Linked DNA regions of Homo sapiens. The protein of the gene in region 1 purifies or fractionates together with the protein of each later gene. This does not show direct contact. Each region holds a gene or a part of one and is shown in the gene's direction. Other genes may lie near its edges.

Evidence for each region.
Region 2: the proteins of CALD1 (region 1) and VDAC1 purify together in Homo sapiens (affinity purification with mass spectrometry; one large-scale study listed by BioGRID and IntAct). This does not show direct contact.
Region 3: the proteins of CALD1 (region 1) and PHLDB2 purify together in Homo sapiens (affinity purification with mass spectrometry; one large-scale study listed by BioGRID and IntAct). This does not show direct contact.
Region 4: the proteins of CALD1 (region 1) and TMOD3 purify together in Homo sapiens (affinity purification with mass spectrometry; one large-scale study listed by BioGRID and IntAct). This does not show direct contact.

What each region holds. Positions count from the first base shown.
Region 1 is NC_000007.14:134,781,720-134,786,606, forward strand, and holds part of CALD1 (caldesmon), read left to right. Parts: intron 1-2,610; exon of another isoform or gene 2,611-2,797; intron 2,798-4,887. UniProt on the Homo sapiens protein: Actin- and myosin-binding protein implicated in the regulation of actomyosin interactions in smooth muscle and nonmuscle cells (could act as a bridge between myosin and actin filaments).
Region 2 is NC_000005.10:133,994,377-133,999,263, reverse strand, and holds part of VDAC1 (non-selective voltage-gated ion channel VDAC1), read left to right. Parts: intron 1-4,887. UniProt on the Homo sapiens protein: Non-selective voltage-gated ion channel that mediates the transport of anions and cations through the mitochondrion outer membrane and plasma membrane.
Region 3 is NC_000003.12:111,861,477-111,866,363, forward strand, and holds part of PHLDB2 (pleckstrin homology-like domain family B member 2), read left to right. Parts: intron 1-4,887. UniProt on the Homo sapiens protein: Seems to be involved in the assembly of the postsynaptic apparatus. May play a role in acetyl-choline receptor (AChR) aggregation in the postsynaptic membrane.
Region 4 is NC_000015.10:51,835,365-51,840,251, forward strand, and holds part of TMOD3 (tropomodulin-3), read left to right. Parts: intron 1-4,887. UniProt on the Homo sapiens protein: Blocks the elongation and depolymerization of the actin filaments at the pointed end. The Tmod/TM complex contributes to the formation of the short actin protofilament, which in turn defines the geometry of the membrane skeleton.

The sequences.
Region 1 (4,887 bases):
GTAAAGTGCAGGGTTGTTTCAAGTATTCGAAGCAAATAGAAGGTGTAATTTAAATCATTCCAGTCAAAAGATTGCCTTAAGTAAATACACAATTCTTATATTAAAGTTAGGAGAAGGAGAACCAGGCTCAAACTGCAGTTTAAAGGATTTTAAATGAGATACATGAAAGCATTTCCTGACAGTAAGGCAACTGCCTTATTATGAGAATCATTAACAATTCTAATTGGCTCCTGTGACTGGCCTGAGAATCTCCTTGTCTTAGGTAGATAGAATAAGTTGATCTTATGGCCAGCCATGTAAAGGTCCAGAATCTAGCCCAGGTATTCTCTGTTCTGATAAATAAAATGCACCTCAGCAGGCATTTTTGTAGAAACACATGTAATTGTCTCCATTTGCCATTTTCTTGATAGCATGATTACCAGTTAGTCATTCCTTAGCAAGACGCAAAAGTGATTCAGAGATGGGCATGAAAAGAGATTTGCTAGTTCCCCATTTGCCTGTAGTCTATCACATGTCTCAGAAATGTGGTCGGGGGACAGGAAAAATGCTGATAGAGTGGTATGCAAATAGCATGGTAGGACTAAGGAGGAGGTTAGAAAGATGCTGCCAAAGAATTTTCAGACTTCAAAAGGGCGTTTTCTGCGTTAAGTTCTCTTAGGGCCTGAGAAGATACCATTAGCTCCTTACTGAAAGTCCTTCATCTGTCAGGCTAATCCAAGTTTGCTATTGGAGAGATGCCCATAAGTCCTGAGTAGATGGGTAGTTTAAAGAGAAACTTTTGGCACAGGCTTAACTTATGAGAACCACTACAACATCTCAGTTCTAGTATTGGTTCCTCTGCTTAAGTAACCCTGACCTTTTTGAGGAAATCATCAGCTTTTGACTTCATCTGTTGAGTGAAGAACGGACATTGGTAATGCTTCTCCGATGTCCCACAGTGGTTAAGACGTCCAAATGAGATGAAGCTGTTTGCTCCCTCTTCCCTGCAGATTCTATACCCTGAACTGCCTATCATTTGAGTCCTCTGGACATTATGCTCATCTTGGCTGGTATCCTCCACTTCTTACCTAGTATCCCTAATGATCTCTTCCTTTCTCGTATTTAAGGACCCTTGAGTGATATCTTCTCGCTCCTGGTTATTTCTAGAGCCCTGAGCCGTGTCCAGTGAATACTGGTCTATCCCAATGTTGTCTGAATTTTTACTTTGATGATCACAGACTAAGAGGACACAAATATAAGGAAGTGGAATAAGATGGGCCATCAGTGGTACAAGGCACCAGGAAATCCAAAGATCCACTTGAGCATAAGACCAGTGAGAAAGTGCTGACAACAGAAAGCCCTTAAGTAATTGAGGCAGCTTCTCTGCCTCCAGCCAAAAGCATGGAATGAACCCCGGAACGTCATGCCTGGGCCTTGTAGGAAGGGCAAGGAAGGCAGGAACACCTGGCTGTGGTTCCTGTTGGTATTGAAACCAGACTGCTCCACGGAGCTCGCCTCTCACCTCTTTGCTTCTGTCTTTAGTGCTCCCAGCTGTAACCGACCCTAGTTGCATCCCTAACTTCCTTACCCCCAGGCCTCCACCTGTAACCTCTTCCCCAGCTCCCCCATCCCTGTACCGGATAGGGAGCTTTCTTGATCCAACATTGACAATTTGCAGGGGCCAGCTCTAAGATGAGGCCCAGAGTACAGCAGAACACTCTAGCACAGATAGGTTCTAGCTAGGGAAAGCCACTTGCACAGACAGAGGAGATGTCAGAGCATGTTTTGTGGTAAGGACCCACTCTGCTTCTCACCCCAAACTCATAATTGGCAGGCTGTGGGTAAGGCTATGGGAGCGGGGTCGGGGGGAAACTATGACCTGGGCTGTGAGGGAGGGGTGATGAGGTTGTTCCCTGTGTTGTTCTTCCCTGTGTTGTTGCTATGGAAACCTTTGAGAATCTGATAAAAACTGTGAACCCTTAAGGTCCCTTTGTAAACCCACGCTTCATGATTGACAGGTAAGAGACCTTTGAGCTGGGGCATGTAAGATGGGGAGTGGGGTCAGATCTGGATTCCCATAGAAGACAAGGGTGGATGGGATCAGAACATGAGTGGAGGTGTCCATGATCTGGAAGGAAGAAAAGAGGGGGTAAATACACAGATATATAGGTGGAGATTGCGTCATATGACCTCCATTTCAAAGAAAAAGAGGTCATTTCCAGAAAAGAAGCAATTTTCTATGGGGAGCTCGTGGGGGCTAGAGAAATCCAGGAATGGCTGCTATTAAGTGTACGTAAAAAGAACACCCAGAAGTTAATAAAAGGCTTGCTAAGCAGCAGTAAGGGAATAGTTGAAGGAAAATACATTTTTAAAAGATTTTAGTATATCGGGCACTCATTTTAGTACATGGCTTTTCTTTGAAAATATATGTATATGTATAAATGATGTATAACTTGAAGATAAATTGCTTTTTGATGGTATCCTGAGGCTTCTGGCATTGTTTTGTGAATACTCCATGAAAGCACTTGACTAAAAGGGAATAATCTCACTTGGAGAGAAACATATTAAGCAGGAATATATAATTAGTTCCTCTGACACCCACATATAACATTCCCCCTCGCTTGTCTCAAGATACATTGCTGGGGAACCAGGCTGACTTCACCTTGTGCTGAAGACCAGAAGGACCAAGGCAAAGTGCCCAAGAGGGCCAAGGACCAGTTGGCATCAAAGATATTAGTTCCACTGGGGTCAGGAGGACCAGTCTAAGCCAGAATGGATATCAGTTACAAAAATGGGCTAAGTTGTGCATGACAGCCAGGTGAGTAAAGAAGAAACAGCAAAAATCAGAAGTCAGGCAGAGCTTAGTGAAGTAGTGTATGGATGAATAAGGTGAAGTCTGGGAGAGCACATGGCCCAGTGTTAGGAAGAAATAGACCTCTATGTGAGCAAACTTTGGTAGCTCAAGTAAAGGGCCAGGATTGTAAGACACAGATTAACGAACGGATGAAATCACAGGGATATCCAAGAGCAGAAGCCCAAATAGGACCAGGGCCCAAAGAGAGTAGAGTTAGAGTCAAGGTGGGTGAGAGGATCCCAGCCGCGGTCCATGGATATTTACTCCATCCCTTTCCACTAGTGTGACTCAGCTCAGCGCACGTGTCTGCCTCTTTCTGTTGTTCTATCAACTGGAAAATTTCTTCTGTGTTTCCAGGTCCAGTCCTGAGAGAGGAGATCTGATTGGTTCAGTCAAAGACTATTGTCTTTGGCAAATCCTTTAGTAGGAGGAGGACATCAAAGGCACAGGCGCGCCTAAGGATGAATTACTCTAATCCAGGCAGTGGTCACCCCTGGGCAAAGAAGAGCTCAATGGGTAATTTTAGTTAGAAGAGAAATTGAGCATGGAAGGCAAATTAGCTGAAATGTCCAACAGCTCTCAATGGGAATCATTTGAATTTTGAGGTGAATAAACTCCTAGAGAGGCAAACACCCAATGAATGATCACACAGTTCTTGATGATCACTGTGACCCACTGAGCCAGTGTTAAGGGAGATTAATCTAGAAGTTTGCACCACTGGTAACTGAAAGGATAAGAATCATCCATCTCAGAAAGATTTTGGGAAAAAACATTCTGGATATTATTGTTGGCAAGAAACTTCATATGAATCTTCCATGTGATATGGCTCCCTTCAAATGAAAGCAGTCTTGAAGATTTAATATGTAATCATTTAACAATTTTAATAAATAAAAACAAGCACAACTCAATGTAAACCACAGTACATAATAAGGTGAATGCATAAAAGCTGGTGTACTCTTAATCACTGGAAGTTTCAGATCTAAGCAATATTTGCTATGTAATTTTTAATCCATTGAGCACCCATCATGGTGTTTGTCAAGTGGACTAAAATATCCCCTGAGTTCTGCATAGTTCGGATCCCATTTGGGAACTTGTGCTCTGTTCTGGGCTCATTTTTCTGAAAGGCATGGATACATATGCATTCTAGGGTTAGCATCAAAGGCTGGAGGGAGTCAGGAGGCAAAACATATGCTGAACCGATAAGGGATCTAGAGCTGTTTATCCCAAAGAAAAGAAAATGAGGCCACATAAATATCTTCTAATATTTGGGGTACTTTTATATGAACATGGGAGAAGGCATTTGTGTTTCTCAAGGCAGCAGAACAGAACTGAATATATAAATTCATAGAATTTTTAAGCTGGGCAAGACCTTAGGAGCTCATTCAGCCCAAGGAGTACATATAACTTTTCATCTGTATGCCAGCTCCAACCAATTGGCATGTTAAGAAGGATTCTGAGGATGAATCTAAGCTCAGAGGGGAGGGGAAAATGTGGTCACTGATAGTGATATCTGTTGTGGAAGAGAAGGGCCATATCTACTCAAGTACCATGTTTTAGTCTTCATTAATGTGGTCTGTAGGTTTTTAACCTCTGGGTGGTGGATCCCTGGGAGGCCACAAAGTCATTGCAAGAGGTAAACAAATCTGTATATGCAGCAAGTGCTTTTGGCAAGCTACTCTGAGTAAATAATATATCTTACATCATATGTGCTACTATTTTTCTAATTCTATACATACATTATAATGATAAAATGCTAATTTATTTAAAAGAGTTATTGAATTCATAGTAGCTTTTAAGTTTGTGTTTTTGTGTTTTATTAATGAGTGGACTTAAAACATATAATTATATTATGTGTGGGAAGGTTGGGACAGGAAATTTGGGATCTTAAGTAGAAATTCTTTTTAAAATATGAACCAGTGATCTATTTTTTATTCTCCAAAGCCTAGCCACACCAAGTAAAATTATGTATGTATTTGTAGGTTTCTTCGATTAATGTCTGCCCTGTCTTATTGGTCTGTCAGATATATAAGGACAGGAACCTCTATTTTTTTTTC
Region 2 (4,887 bases), on another chromosome or scaffold:
GGCCACCCTGCTCCCTGTATCAACCATTGCAGTAGTTGTTGGCTCTCTAGGGGTGCAAAGCTCATCTGCCTGAATCCTTCTATTATTACTATTTATTTCTTTTTATTTTTTATTTAAAAGAGACAGGGTCTCACTGTATTGCCCAGGCTGGTCTCGAACTCCTGCATTCAGGCGATCCTCCTGCCTCAGCCTCCCAAAGTGCTGGGATTAGAGGCGTGAGCCACCATGCCTGGCACATGCCTGAATCCTTTTGAGGGAGCCTCTGCAGAGAAGAGAGCATATTTCTACCAGGCGGGGGCCTGGTAGGTGCTTAGTGCAGGAACCGCCCTGAGCTGCTGCTTCTCAGTGGCACCTGGGGGCAGCCCTGCCTGTTAGGCACAGGCTGAGAGGTAGGGCAGGAGGAGTTCCATCTCTTCTGGCAGGCTCTTCTTGAACAAGCGCCTCCGGTGATTCTTGTGCACCCTGAAGTTAGGGAGCTCTTTCCTGCTCATGATTTCTGGCAGGGTGGCCAAGCCACTAGTGGTCACCTGGGAGTGAAATGTGCCCCGACGGACCTTGCCTGATAACTCTTCCATCTCAGTGTAGTTTAAATCTGTTCTTGCAATCTGTATGGACACTCTAGGTAGCCTTCTGGCATTGCTACTGCAGCAGCCTTGGAACGTGATTTGGGACACAACACAGCTCAATTTCAGGCACAGTGGTTGGCTTTTAAAGTGCTGTTTTTTTGGAGAGGGAGTCTCTCGCTCTGTCACCCAGGCTGGAGTGCAGTGGCACGATCTTGGCTCACTGCAGCCTTTGCCTTTGGGTTCAAGTGATTCTCATGCCTCAGCCTCCCAAGTAGCTGGGATTACAGGCACTTACCACCACGCCCGGCTAATTTTTGTATTGAAATTCTTTATCCTTAAACAAATTATTAGTATACACAAACAGCTTAAATAATGAAGCAGAACAAAAAATGAAAATTCGATTTGAAGTGCATTCCTTCCCTAAACCTCCTTCTCCAGAAGCGTATCTAAGCCAGCCCCAATTTGCAGATTGGCTTGTATCCTTCCACATGCTTTCCCATCCATTCATGAACATAGAAAGATGTGTAAAAAGGTTTTCCTCCAATTACATGGAATTACAAATTTTCTGACTTTTTTCATTTAACTGTATCATAGCTAGCTAGCTTTCTTTCTTTTTTTTTTTTTTGTTTCGAGACGGAGTTTTACTCTTGTTGCCCAGGCTGGATTACAATGGCGCGATCTCAGCTCACCACAACCTCCACCTCCCAGGTTGAGGCAATTCTTCTGCCCCAGCCTCCCGAGTAGCTGGGATTACAGGCATGCGCCACCACGCCTGGCTAATTTATTTTGTATTTTTAATAGAGACAGGGTTTCTCCATGTTGGTCAGGGTGGTCTCGAACTCCTGACCTCAGGTGACCCGCCCACCTCGGCCTCCCAAAGTGCTGGGATTACAGGCATGAGCCACTGCGCACGGCTATCGTAGCTTCATAGCTAGCTTTCTATGCCACCACATACATCCACCTTATTCTTTTTTTTTTTTTTTTTTTTTTGTGAGACAGTCTCGCTCTGTCATCCAGGCTGGAGTGCAGTGGCATGATCTTGGCTCACTGCAACCTCTGCCTCCTGGTTTAAGCTTGTGCCTCAGCCTCTCAAGTAGCTGGCATTACAGGCGTGCACCATCACACCTGGGTGATTTTTTTTTTTTATTTTTTTTTTATTTTTAGTAGAGACGGGGTTTTGCCATGTTGGCCAGGTTGATCTGGAAGTCCTGGCCTGAAGTGATCCGCCCACCTCAGCCTCCCAAAGTGCTGGGATTACAGGCATGAGCCACCCACCTTATTCTTTTTGATTACCATATGGTACTCCTTAGTTTGCAAGTATAGTACCTTAATTTTTATTCATTCATTTTCCTTTTGATGGACTTTTAGGTTGCTTCTGGGTTTTGTGTTACAAATACTGCTGCAGTGAGCATCCTCATATACACATCTTTGAGTAGTGCCTTGGTTGCTACAGTGGGGCAGGTTCCTAGAAGTGGAATTGCCACTAGGGTTAATGCTGGGTTAATTGCTCTCCAAAAAGAGTGTACCTGTAGTACTCCCCCTTGGCGTGAACAAGAGTGACTGTTTTCCACACCCTCACTGACACTGGATATTATTTACGTTTTTGCCAGACTGCTGGTTAAGTGAGCTTCTGAAACACAGATGTGGTAGTCACTCAACAGTGGCTCTTGGTGGCCCTTAGAATAAAATCCATGCATGGTATTGAGGTCAGAAGCAACCAGTGCTTCTGATGGCACTTGGTCTCCTCAGCCTGAGATCAGCTCTCCTTAGGCCGAGGTGGGAGCAGGCAGGGAGTGGAGGTCATTGCTAGTTGAGGGTCTCCCCAACTCCCCCACTCTTGGTGATGCTGCAACAGTGAGCCTGCAGAGGGAGCTCTTACTTCCTGGTTGCATTGTAATGAGTTCCTATTGTCAGATTCCAAGTTTCTACTTTTTTCCCCATTGCTAAATAATACTTTGATGCTCATTGCTCATTCACTCATCAAACACATTTATATTGAATGCCTATTATGTGCCAGGGCTTAGCATCTTTATATACGTAACTTTTTCCATATTTTGGATAAATTTATGCATGACAGGCTCTGGGGTGCTTTGAATTCAAAGAGGTGATTTTGGGGGTAGGTGTATGGGGTAGGGTGGGGTGGGGGCACGGTGAGCACAGCAGCTGTCATTGCCATTCAGCTGATGAGCCAAGAAGGATGTGTACCCCCAAGACAGAGGTTACGTAAGTATTATGCAGACTGTGCTGGGTGATAGATACACTATCCTTCCCCTCTGTGCTTCCAGTATGGGCCGGATTTTCATTCCTCAGCTGGAATGGGGCTTGCATAATTTGTTCAAGGTCAGCCAAGGAAAGGTTGGGTAGGTAGACTGGCAGGCTGTGGAGGGGAACCAGGGACTCCTGTATCCTGGTGTGACTTGCTGGTCCTTCTCAAAGTCTTCAGTGACTGCAGGCAGGTCTGCTCAGCCTGGCCCTGCCCATCCCTCTGTTTCCTACCAACCAGTGGGAACAAAGCCCCCAGGCTCTGCCCTGAAGCCATCACTCAGGCAGAGAGGCCTGTGGTTCTGACTCCCCCAGGACGCCCTCTGACTTCTGTCTGTCCAGGGCTAGCTGCTTTGCCGATGCCAGACTGCCCTGCTTCATGCGCAGCCTCTAGAGGCTCAGCTTGTGAAGGCCCCTGGGGGGTGGATGCTGCAGAGACAGCTGTGTATCAGTAGCTAACTGTACAGGCTCCGATTTGGAGCAGATCTGGGTGGAAGGAGTGACTGGGAGGGGTGGGGGCCAGGGTTCAGCCTTCAAGTCAGCACCCTGGCAGGGTGTTAAGTGAAAGCAGGCTTTGTTGCCGACTTTTCTTTCCTCCAGTCCTCGCCTTAGAAAATTAATGCAGATTATTATTTCTATCATAAAATTGTCTCTGAAATGGGTTCGAGAGCTGTGTAAAAATGGGCATTTTGGGGGTGCTGTCTGTAGCTGTAAGAAAGCTGAACTTCTCGGAGCGGCAGAGCTGTCTCGGGCCTTCCTTAGTTCCGTCAGATCAGTGCAGCAGGGGATGGGCCGAAGTGCACAAAAAGGAGGGGAAGCTACCACTACCTGGCAGTTGGGGGCCTTTAGTGAAAGGGTGAGTCATCCTTTTGCTGTCCTCGGTGGTGTCACTTCAGGCCCAGGAGTGGACTTGACTCCATTCAGCCAGTGGTTTCTGTGAGTCTTCCTTGCCAGGTGCTATGCTGGGGAGAATGCTTACTTGGGGGCCCAGAACGGGGGAGATTATGCTTCATTGTCGGTGTTCAAGGAGATGGGGAAGAGAGCAAGACACAGATGAGAAAGCCAGCATCCAGTATGTTTACAGTGAGGCATTGGATAGGGATATGTTTTAGTGAACCAGCAAGTTCACTTGCGTGCTGCTGGTACCAACTACATGGTTGTGTTGTGGAACCCCACAGCCCCAAAAGAGCTTGGCCGTGTCGGAGCTCCTAGAGGCCCCAGGAGGGGTCCGGTCTGCTCTTCTGAGCTCTGCTCTCTGAGTGCCTTGTCCTTGGGTGGTAATCTCTTTAGTGGCCTTGTACTTCAGGCTGATGTTTGCTGTGGGTGGGGTGTTTTTTGACAGGTGGCTGTGCTTGTTGGATTTTGGGGATTAGCGATGAGAGAGGGCATTTGGGGAACATTTAATGGATGAGTGCTCTGCCTTTATCCTGAGCGGGGACCAGTCCAGATGTGAAGGCTGCTGTGTCTGGGAGGCGTCTCTTCTGTGGGGTCAGGGGAGAGTCGTGGGGAAGGCTCTGGCTCCTAAGGTCCAGGGAGGTCTTAGGTGACCCACAGATATTACCACTGGACTGCTTCTCCTTCTGCTTCCCCAGCCCCCACCCCGGCTGAGTTTGTGGCCCCCCTGGGAGGCATAGCACTGAAGAGGGGTACTTGGTTCACTGATGGTTTGTTAACCCTGTCGGGTGGAGAATGTTCTGGGCCCGTTACTGTTATGTTCTGTGTCTGCCTGGGGTTACATTGCCTCAGCTTTCAATCCAGAGTTGTTCTCCTAGGAAGGTGTCAGGTAAAGGGTATTTCTTGAGGTTCTGGTGGGTGGTTTCCTGGTCTATCCCGGGGGGATGCACCTACAGGGTTAGTTTGGGAGGGAGGAACAAGTGGGGAGAGGGGAGCCCCCAGACTGGAAAGAGCCAGTGGCGGGCAGTGTAAAATGGATCTTCCCCCCTCATCTCTCTACCCTGATACTAATGTGGGCTGACCTGTCCATGGTTTCAGCCTGATCATGTGCAAGAAATAACACAGCAGCGACAAAAATAGGACAGAGTAAACAGCTCGCTGCTCT
Region 3 (4,887 bases), on another chromosome or scaffold:
GACCCAGAGGTTTGCAGATCTCAGCCTGTCAGAAGTGGAAAAATGAGATGTCTGGTTAAGAGTAGTCATCATTTCAGTCAATTTGCAGGCCTCAATCTGTTTTATGCAGCTGGCAGCTGCTGTTCTTTTGGTGTTGAGATCGTCTGCCACGAGTGTCGCCTGGATCCCTGTTTGAAAAGGGGAGGAAAAGATACTTGGGAAATTGGACTGAGAGCTTGCTTACTCCTCCGTTCAATAACTGTGACCAAGCTGAAACTCGTTAGCAACCTTTCCAGAAACGTTTTATTTACCATGTGTGTTTGTTGTGTATGCAAGAGAGGAAAAAATAAGCCAAAGTGATTAACCAATCTCTGGTTTTCCCTATTTTCTTCAAAGCTCCATTTTGAGATCTATAAGCAAGGGTTGACTCTCGAGTTCATTGGAGAAGTTACCTCGGCTCACTACAACTTCTGCCTCCTTGGTTCAAGCCATTTTCCTGCCTCAGCCTCCCGAGTAGCTGGGATTACAGGCGCCTGCCACCACACCTGGCTAATTTTTCTATTTTTAGTAGTGACAGGATTTTGCCATGTTGGTCAGGCTGGTCTCAAACTCTTAACCTCAGGTGATCCACCTGCCTTGGCCTCCCAAAGTACTGGGATTACAGGCATGAGCCACCACACCCGGTCTCCTTTTAAATATTTTTAAAGGAGTAGTTAACGTTATGGCTTTATATCCTGATTTTCAACCCTTAGCAGGGAGGCAGTGCTATGGTGCTGTGGATGGCTTAGAGTGACAGTGGCTTTGTACATTTTCTAGGTGGAGTACCTGTGCCTTATGAATCTATCTGTAAAGTCTTGGTGTACCAATTGTTGATTGTGTAAATGTCACTCTTTTGAAACAAAAACACCTAAGTGATGTGCTTTATCTTAAAGTCCTGACATACATTAGAGCTGTGGTTTTCACTGGGAGAGGGGTTTTGGCCCCCAGAGGATACTGGCAACGTATTTTTGGTTGTAGCAACTGACAGGAGGAGAGTGCTACTGCCATATAGTGGGTAGAGGCCTGGGATGCGGTTAAGCACCCTGCCATGCACGGGACACAAAAACAATTATGCAGCCCCAAACCCTGCACTACAGTATTGCCTGGGGGAGTAGGTTAACAAGATTAGGCATCTTAATCTGATTTGGATCCTCAAGAAACTTGTTTAACTGTGTTAAACAAGAGACCCTTATCATAGAAGCCGTTTTGTATGCAGCAGATTCTTTTGTCCTTGCCATTTAGAGTCTTAATATACCATAGAGGTCGAGGAACTTGTGTTCATTGACAACTTTGAGATGGATTAAAGTCATGGGATTTGGGAGCATTAGAGCACAAGGGAGCCTCAGAGATCACTTAATTTCTACCCCTTCTTTTTATAGATGTAAAAAACTGAGACACTCAGAGCTTTAGGACTCATAAGGTCTCAAGCGAGCTAAGGGCGGGCAGACAAAGTTCTAGGTACAACCCAGGAGTTAAAAATTTTAAAATAGAGATTCAGGCAAATGGGAACAAAAAACAAAACACACTGGACCTGACCTTGTGTAAAAGTTTCAAAGCACCATTCCCTGTGAGAAAATAAATAAATGCTTCGATGGGGGAGGGGTGGCATTAGCCATAGAGACTGTGGGGCACGTGCCTGGGTGCCCCAGTCCCAGAAAGGGGTAATTCCATTATATGACCTGTGACACTCCACTTCTGATGCCTGTACTGTCCTTTCCATGGCAAAGTAGGCAACAGATGGTTCCACAGACATAGCAGATGTTGCTTTTGAATCCAGGTACAAAACAGAACATTTGAGATTTTCTGTTCCTCCCTGCCTTATCGGTTAAGAGTAGAGTACATGAATGGATAGGGCTGGCTTGGACAGAAGGGAGAATTACAGAGGCCTCCTGAGTATGGAAGAAAAAAAGACACCTGGCATATATGGAAATGAGCAAGTGTTGGGGAAATTGTGGGAGAAATTCATAAGCTGATGAGGGGATATCTAATATAAATTCAATTGCATAGAACTAGGATTAAGAATCAGAAGACAATTCAAGCTTAGCTATTCTTTCAGCATGTAGAACAAAATAACTATGGGGGTAAAAGGAACCTTAGAAATCCTCTTATCTGAATCTTTTCCCTCCAACCAACTAACTGGGTTAGATAGCGGCAGAATCTGCAAGCCTCCTGTTCTATTGTACTTTCTCCTGCACCCACAGTCTCTACCATTCCATGTGTTTACCTAATGGGAAAGAAAATGATAGTAAAGAAAGTTATTGTTAATTACTTGGGAGAGTTTAAAAAGCATGGTATTTGTGAATGGCTGTTTATAGAAAGGAGTTACCTTAATGAGTTTATGATTATCAGAAAAGTTGTACACCATAGCCTGATTAATTACAAACATGTATACTCTCCTGTTTACATTGCTATGGTTAGCCATTAGGCTCATGATTATAGATTCTAGTTCTGGGTGCCAAGCTGTCCTCCTGTGGTAGTTATTTTATCTAATACTCAAATCTGACAGGTTCTGGCCATATAGGAAAGTTTTTAGTATGCCTTTGGTGGGAGACATAAAACCTCTGAAAAGTGTTAAGATAGTTTCTTATCATTTTGACAACTAGCCAAAGGGTGCACCTCAAAGCCAAGTACATAGTGATATATTTAGAAATGACTCAAGAGTGATAGCCCTTTTAAGGGATCTGCCCCCCCGCAGGTACTATGCAAAAGGGGTGTAGCAGTCTTTTCATTATCATCTTTCATCTGGCCATTCTTGTTACTGTTTTTCAGATGATGGGAGAGGAGACAGGAGTAGTTTTTAAAAAAATAACTGTTGGCTAGAAATATTTATTGGGATTTGATTAAAGTAACTTGTCTTTTAAAAATAAATGAAACCAAAATTGTTAGCTCAGATTTTCAAATCCCTTCAAAGTAAACATTTAGCAAGGCAGAACTTCTCTCTATGTTCATCCAGGAATTTGAACCTTCTGGGAGTTAATTTGCTTACAGTTGTTTTCATGACGCTTAAGGATGTTTCTTAGACATTGCAGAAAAGGAGCTTTGTGCTGTATCTGCTTTAAAGGCAAGATAGTTGTCTATAGCAGCTAGTGGTCAATAAGAGAAACCCAAGTGTAAAAATCATTTTACTGTTGTGTGGGAAACTAGAGGTTGTAGGTAATTGCTATACAAAGAAACAGATTAATAAGATATAGAGTAACAGGGTTAGTCAAAAAGTTTTTGAGAGGATTTTTACAGGAGATACTTGTTTAGTGTGTTAGGTTGATTTTATTAGATGAAGTGCTTTTCCTTACTTTACAAAGTAAAAGGAAAGAAAATATTGTGTATGCCACTGTTTATCGATGGCCTTAAGCCAGGTCAGCTTTTTCTGAGACTTGCTGCTAATTCAGTGGGAATTGGTGTTGATCATCTTAGAATGTTTTGTTTGCACATTGCATGTGACTGCCCTAGATGGCAGTATGTTCATGGAACTAGCCTATGAAATAGCAAAAAAGTTAAAGATTACAAGAGTTTTCCAAGATTTCTTTCTTGACCACCCTACTGCTAAAACAAGGAAAGATAAAGGCAAAAGAAACCCAGCTCCTACATTCTTTTGACCAGTGCAGACCCAGTGTGAATAGTGCCGCACAGCCAAGAGATATTCAGAGGGGATTGAGAAGTGATGTCTGGCTGCCTCACTGCTTACGTCATTGCAGAAGTAGCTTTTCAAAAACAGCTTAAGATTTATTAAGGAAACTGCAAGCCATGGGAATGCAGACAAAACCTTTCTTATACATCATGCTCAATCAAATACCCATATTATATTACATTACCATAACTCTGACCAGGCCTTTTTCCCACTATGTTATGCTAAAACAATTTACCATGCCTTTGGAATGTCATGGGCAACAGTCCGGTGAAATCTTTTCCCAATTAGGTAGCTGCCACCTTATCACTAAAACTATTTCTGTTCTGTGGTCATTTCCATTTCCTGCATTATGTAATGAGCACTCCTGTGTTATTTAACCAGTATCTGTGGGAGTCCAGAAAGTTGGAGCAGAAAGAACATGTAGTTCACTCTCACCATGTTGAGTATGGAGAAACTCCTGTTGAAACAAAATGAAGACAGGCGAATTGACGTGCTCCAGATCTTAGTTCTGTTAGCAGAACCAGAACTAAGATGGATCTTCTGACTTGCTTCCCTGGCAGCCTATCCAGTGTTCTTTCTACTAGATTGGCCACTGTAATAAAAATAACATCCTAACGTAACCATTTCCTTTATTAGATCTTTTGGCCAGAGTTATTAAAAAAAAAGCATTGATTAAAATTAAATTAAACTTAGTCAATTGTTTATCTTGACTTGTTCAAGTTATTTCCCTTCTTTCAAGCAGTAAGTGGTCAAAAGGTAGATAGCATGGAAGGGAAAAATTAAGTGTTTTATAATACTCATTCTGCACAATCAGCTGCTAAGTAATGAAGATATGATATTATCATAATTATTATTTTTACTTTACAATATTTTAGAAACCTACCCCACCCACTCATTTTTTTTTTTTTTTTTTTTTTTTGGAGACAGAGTTGCTCTGTCACCCAGGCTGGAGTACAGTGGTGCGATCCAGCTCACTGCAACCTCGGCCTCCCAGGTTCAAGTGATTATCCTGCCTCAGCCTCCCGAGTAGCTGGGATTACAGGCATGCACCACCACACCCAGCTAATTTCTGTACTTTAATAGTGATGGGGTTTCGCCATATTGGCCAGGGTGGTCTCAGACTCCTGACCTTTGGTGATCTGCCCACCTCAGCATCACAGAGTGCTGGAATTACAGGCATGAGCCACCGAGCCCGGCCTCATGTACTCAATTTGTGATGTAAAGCGAAATGCATTACAAACATG
Region 4 (4,887 bases), on another chromosome or scaffold:
TGATCTTGGCTCACTGCAGCCTCGACCTCCTGGGCTCAAGCAGTCCGTCAGCCTCAGCCTCTCAAGTATTAATAGCTGGGACTACAGGCATGCACCACCATAACTGGCTAATTTTTGTATGTTTAGTAGAGATGGAGTTTCATCATGTTTCCCAGGCTGTCCTTGAACTCCTGAGCTCAAGCAAACTGCTCACCTTGGCATCCCAAAGTGCTGGGATTACAGGCGTGAGCCACCACACCCAGCCTTAGTTTCCATGTTTCTACTCCATTGTCTATTCCAATCCTTTGTGATGCAATTTCTGAATTTGCCTTGGAACAATTTTTAGGGAGACAGTTTGGTTATTTTTTTCTTCTAAGTTTATTTGCTGATAATACACTAAGTTTTAAAAAGAATGTCACCCCAACCTCATTATTCTTATGTAGCTATTTTTACTTTTCCTCATTTCTTTCCAGGCCTGATTCATTCTCATACGTATTTTTATATGATTGTAATCATAGTGTGCATATTGTTTTTTGTTCAGAGATTGAGTTGTAACTAGTGAATGCTGTCTCCCTTAGGTAGATCACCCTTGTTAGTAAAGACAAAGATTAGAGATGGAGAAAAGACAACTGGGGACTTACCAGTGAGGAGTCTTGAATCCTAAAGCTTAACTAAAATAGAAGCAGAAAAAAGCTAAGATTTTCAAAGACAGGATTACCTTTCTGTGGAAATGCAGGACAACTTTGGTTTCCTTATTCATTCCTTCCCCCTTTCTCTAACATATAACAGCTTTAGTGAGATATAATTCGCACACCATACAATTCACCCATTTAAAGTGTACAGTTCAGTGGATTTTGCTACATTCAGAACTGTAGAACCATCACCACCATTTTAGAACATTTTCATCACACCAGAAATAAACCCCTTACCATTAGCAGTTACTACCTAATTCCTCCCAATTCCCCCCTGGTCTCCCCCACCCAGCCCTAGGCAACCACTAATCTACTCTCTCTTAAGATTTGCCTCTTCTGGACATCTCATATAAATGGAATCATATAATATGTCATATTTTGTGCCTGGCTTCTTTCACCCTTATACTACTCTTAAGAATTCGTTTTCACGCCTATAATCCCAGCACCTTGGGAGGCTGAGGCGGGTGGATCACGAGGTCAGGAGATCGAGACCATCCTGGCCAACATGGTGAAACCCCGTCTCTACTAAAAATACAAAAATTAGCCAGGCATGTTGGCACACACCTGTAGTCCCAGCTACCCGGGAGGCTGAGGCAGGAGAATCGCTTGAACCTGGGAGGTGGAGGTTGCAGTGAGCCGAGATCATGTCACTGCACTCCAGCCTGGTGACAGAGTGATGCTCCGTCTCAAAAAAAAAAAAAGAAAAAAGAAAAAAGAAAAATACTGAAATACAGTCAAGGTTCCTCCTGAGATGTGCACCCTTTTTGAGCTATAAAGATATCCACTGCCTCGGGTATATATGTTCAACACCTGCACCCACTCACTAAGGAAGGAACACAAACACACTAAGACAAACTTACAAACTAAGGTAACATATACAGTGATGATAACCCCCTACAAATAAACAGTTTCATATCTGGGCATAACTAAGCATGAACATCATGATAAGTACATACAAGTGAACACAGTTCCTGAAGTGTCTGTGAGAAAGTGAATAAAAACATGGTAAACTAGAAGAAAATGAGGGCTGGGTTTGATATATATATATATAGACTTGTAGGTAAGAAGATTGTTGTATTTCCTTAACCATAGCATAGCAATTCTTTTGAGCAGGATATTATTAGTGATACTTATACAGTAGGGGATTTCCATCCATGTGGAAAATTACAGCCAACAAAATATTTTCATTCCCTGGGTGTGGTGGTAAAACTTTGATGAGGAGTTAAGGAATATTCAGAAGAAGCCCCTCAAATGTATATGAGTCTGGCTTATATTCAGGCAGCCCTTACCCTGAGGCAAACGTGACAAGATATGATACAACCCCCAAGATTTATTTTCATTCATGGTGGGCTATAATTAACCCAGGTTAATACTCTTAGGGAACTATTCTTTTTTTTTTTTTTCCTCTTTAATGTGCCCACTTGAGTGCTAGACCAGCTGAGGAGTTGGGGGTCTAATTTCACTGGAAATAGCAATAAATATGTGATGATTTCAAAGTCATGCCCACCCCACTTTTGTTTTTCTCCTGTTGTCCCTAAGATTTACAGTTTCTTGGTGAAAAATTACAGAACCCTACACAGAAATGGACCAAGGCAGATGTGTAGGATTTCACCTCTGCAAGGCCTTCGGGGCAGGTGGGCTCTTCTGTTAGTCCTCAGCACACCCTCTGTGCTTGCCTTTCCTCTGCCACTTTTCTTGAACCCCCATTATTATTCCTTGTCAAGTCATCTCACTTCCTGCTTTCCTTAGACATTGGCCAGCATTCCAAGTGATATAGTGTGCCCTCCACCAGAGAATAGCTGGCACTGCTTTAAGCCCCTTAGCCTTCCCTCCTACCTCAGAAGAAACTGTTTCCTCTTTTCTTCTCCCACTGCCTGAATCTGGTATAGCACACAAGGGGAGCCTCTGCAGAAATGTTACTTGAACTGGTCCCTGAAAGATGTGAAAGGATTTGAACATGAGAAAGAGTGCAAAAGGACATTTCCTGTGTAATGAACCGTGTGATGTAAGGGCTGCAGGCGGAAGAGCATGGAGGCGTACTTACTTCTGTGTAACACAGGGTGTGTGAAGATCGCTCCTTTCCCTTTACTTTTCTTCTTCTTGCCCTGGATTCCCTCCCAGCTCCAACCTTTTTCAGCCTGTGCTTTGATCTCTTTGTTTAGTATATACTTCTCCACTCCTCTCTGTGTAGCTAATTCTGTCCCTCCCTGACCACCCACAGTGATCTCTGAATTTCTGTACACTAATAGCCAGTACCATTCTTTTGGCAGTTAATTATATATTTTCTTGAAAAAAACAAAAAGCACTTTATGTGCATGTCTCATTTTCCCAAATAGAGTATGTTAGTCAAGGTGTTTAGGTCTCCGGGAACACAAACCCACTTAAGCTATCTTGCTAGATGGTATGGTGGCAGAGCTGGGAGTTGTACTGCATTACTATTGTAAGGCTGCTGAGGTCCGTGAAATGACCTACCACTGGTACCCAGAGCAGACACTTTGAAAGTCTCTGTCCTCTCTCTGCTTGTAGGGCTCTCTTTGGCTTCTTTCTGTGCCTCTGCTCCATTTTAGGACATTAATTTTAATTTTTAAAAAATAGTATGCATTACTGTGTAATTTATCTTGATTGCTGAGCTTTTTTGCACCCTATTAAATACTGAGACACCCTGAGGCAGGTGCCTCCTTTACTTTTTCCCTGTAGCCCCAGCCCTGCTTCATTCTCTTCCCTGCAGACTGACCTTCTGTGCTTTCCCCTTAGCTTCAGCTTCAAGGTGACTAGCTTGTTATGGTAGTGCCTCCAGACTTGGTGATACCTTATGTCTCAACTTGAGTTTTGTCTCCCAGCTTTCCAGATTTCTGGAGAAGAATTGAATTTGATCCGTCCTGGTTAGATTGAGAGTGGTGACCCCTGTACCAAACAGCTGTGAAAGATGTGGCTTTGTTATGTTGTTTCTTTGGCTGTATATTTCACAGGGACTGGAATAAGGGGTGGGTCCCCCCACACAAGGAGGTTTGGGGTTGTTCATCTCAAAACATGCTTATTTTGATGTCAGAAGGAAGTGACCATGCCTTCTCTTTTTTGGTATGTTCCCTGCATCTGGCAGATTGACAGCTAAGAAATAGGTGTATCTCTCTTTTTTTTTTTTTCCATTTTGTTTGAGACTGGGTCTCACTCTGTTGCCTAGGCTGGAGTGCAGGTGTGATCATAGGTCCCTGCAACCTCCGCCTCCCAGGCTCAAGCAATCCTCCCACCTTAGCTGCCCAAGTAGCTGGAACTAAAGGCACGTGCCACCATGCCTGGCTAATTTTTTGTAATTTTTATAGAGATGGGGTCTCTTTATGTTACCCAGGCTAGTCTCAAACTCCTGGGCTCAAGCAGTCCTCCTGCCTTGGCCTCCCAAATTGCTGGGATTACAGAGGTGAGCCACCACACTCAGTCTTCTCTTATTTGGTGTCTATTTATTCCTATGACTTGCCATTTGACCATTAGGATTAACTTTTAGGTATAATAGTCAATTCAGAGCAATTTTTTTTTTCGAGACAGGCTTTCGCTGTCATCCAGGCTGGCGTGCAGGTGTGATCATAGCTCACTGCAGCCTTGAACTCCTGAGCTCAAACAATCCTCCTGCCTCAGTCTCCCAAGTAGCTGGGACTACAATTTGTACACCACCACACCTGGCTAATTTTTCTAGTGAGCAATATTTTTAATACTTAAAATGAATTACTAAAATTTGTGTTATCATTTGGAAATTTTCTAATTTTATAGCAGATTAAATATTTTTTAAACATTTCTTTTTGGAATTTGTTTCTCAGTTCAGAAAGAATAGGGGAGTAGAATATTGATAATCAAAGAGTGACAATACAGTACAACTTTACTGACTCCGCTCCCAGCCCCATTAGGATATGATAAAACCAAGTTCTCACATCATTGACCTCAATGCTTACTGAGTCCCCTTATATTACTTTATTTTATGTTAATTTAGTGTCTACCATGTTGCAGGCACTATATTAGGGGCTGATAATGTAAAAATAGGTCCTTGCCCTCAAAGTGCTCACAATCTATGGTGGAAATAGATTGTGGTCTCTCTGTCAGAGACATGGAGACTGATTATGGTCTGGTGAGATAAATATTGATAGAAGTGTGGGCAAAGTGGTGGGCTAGCACCTCTCTTCTATTGTTTTCTTTGTGTACATCGATCTCTCACTCTTCTGTATTCTCT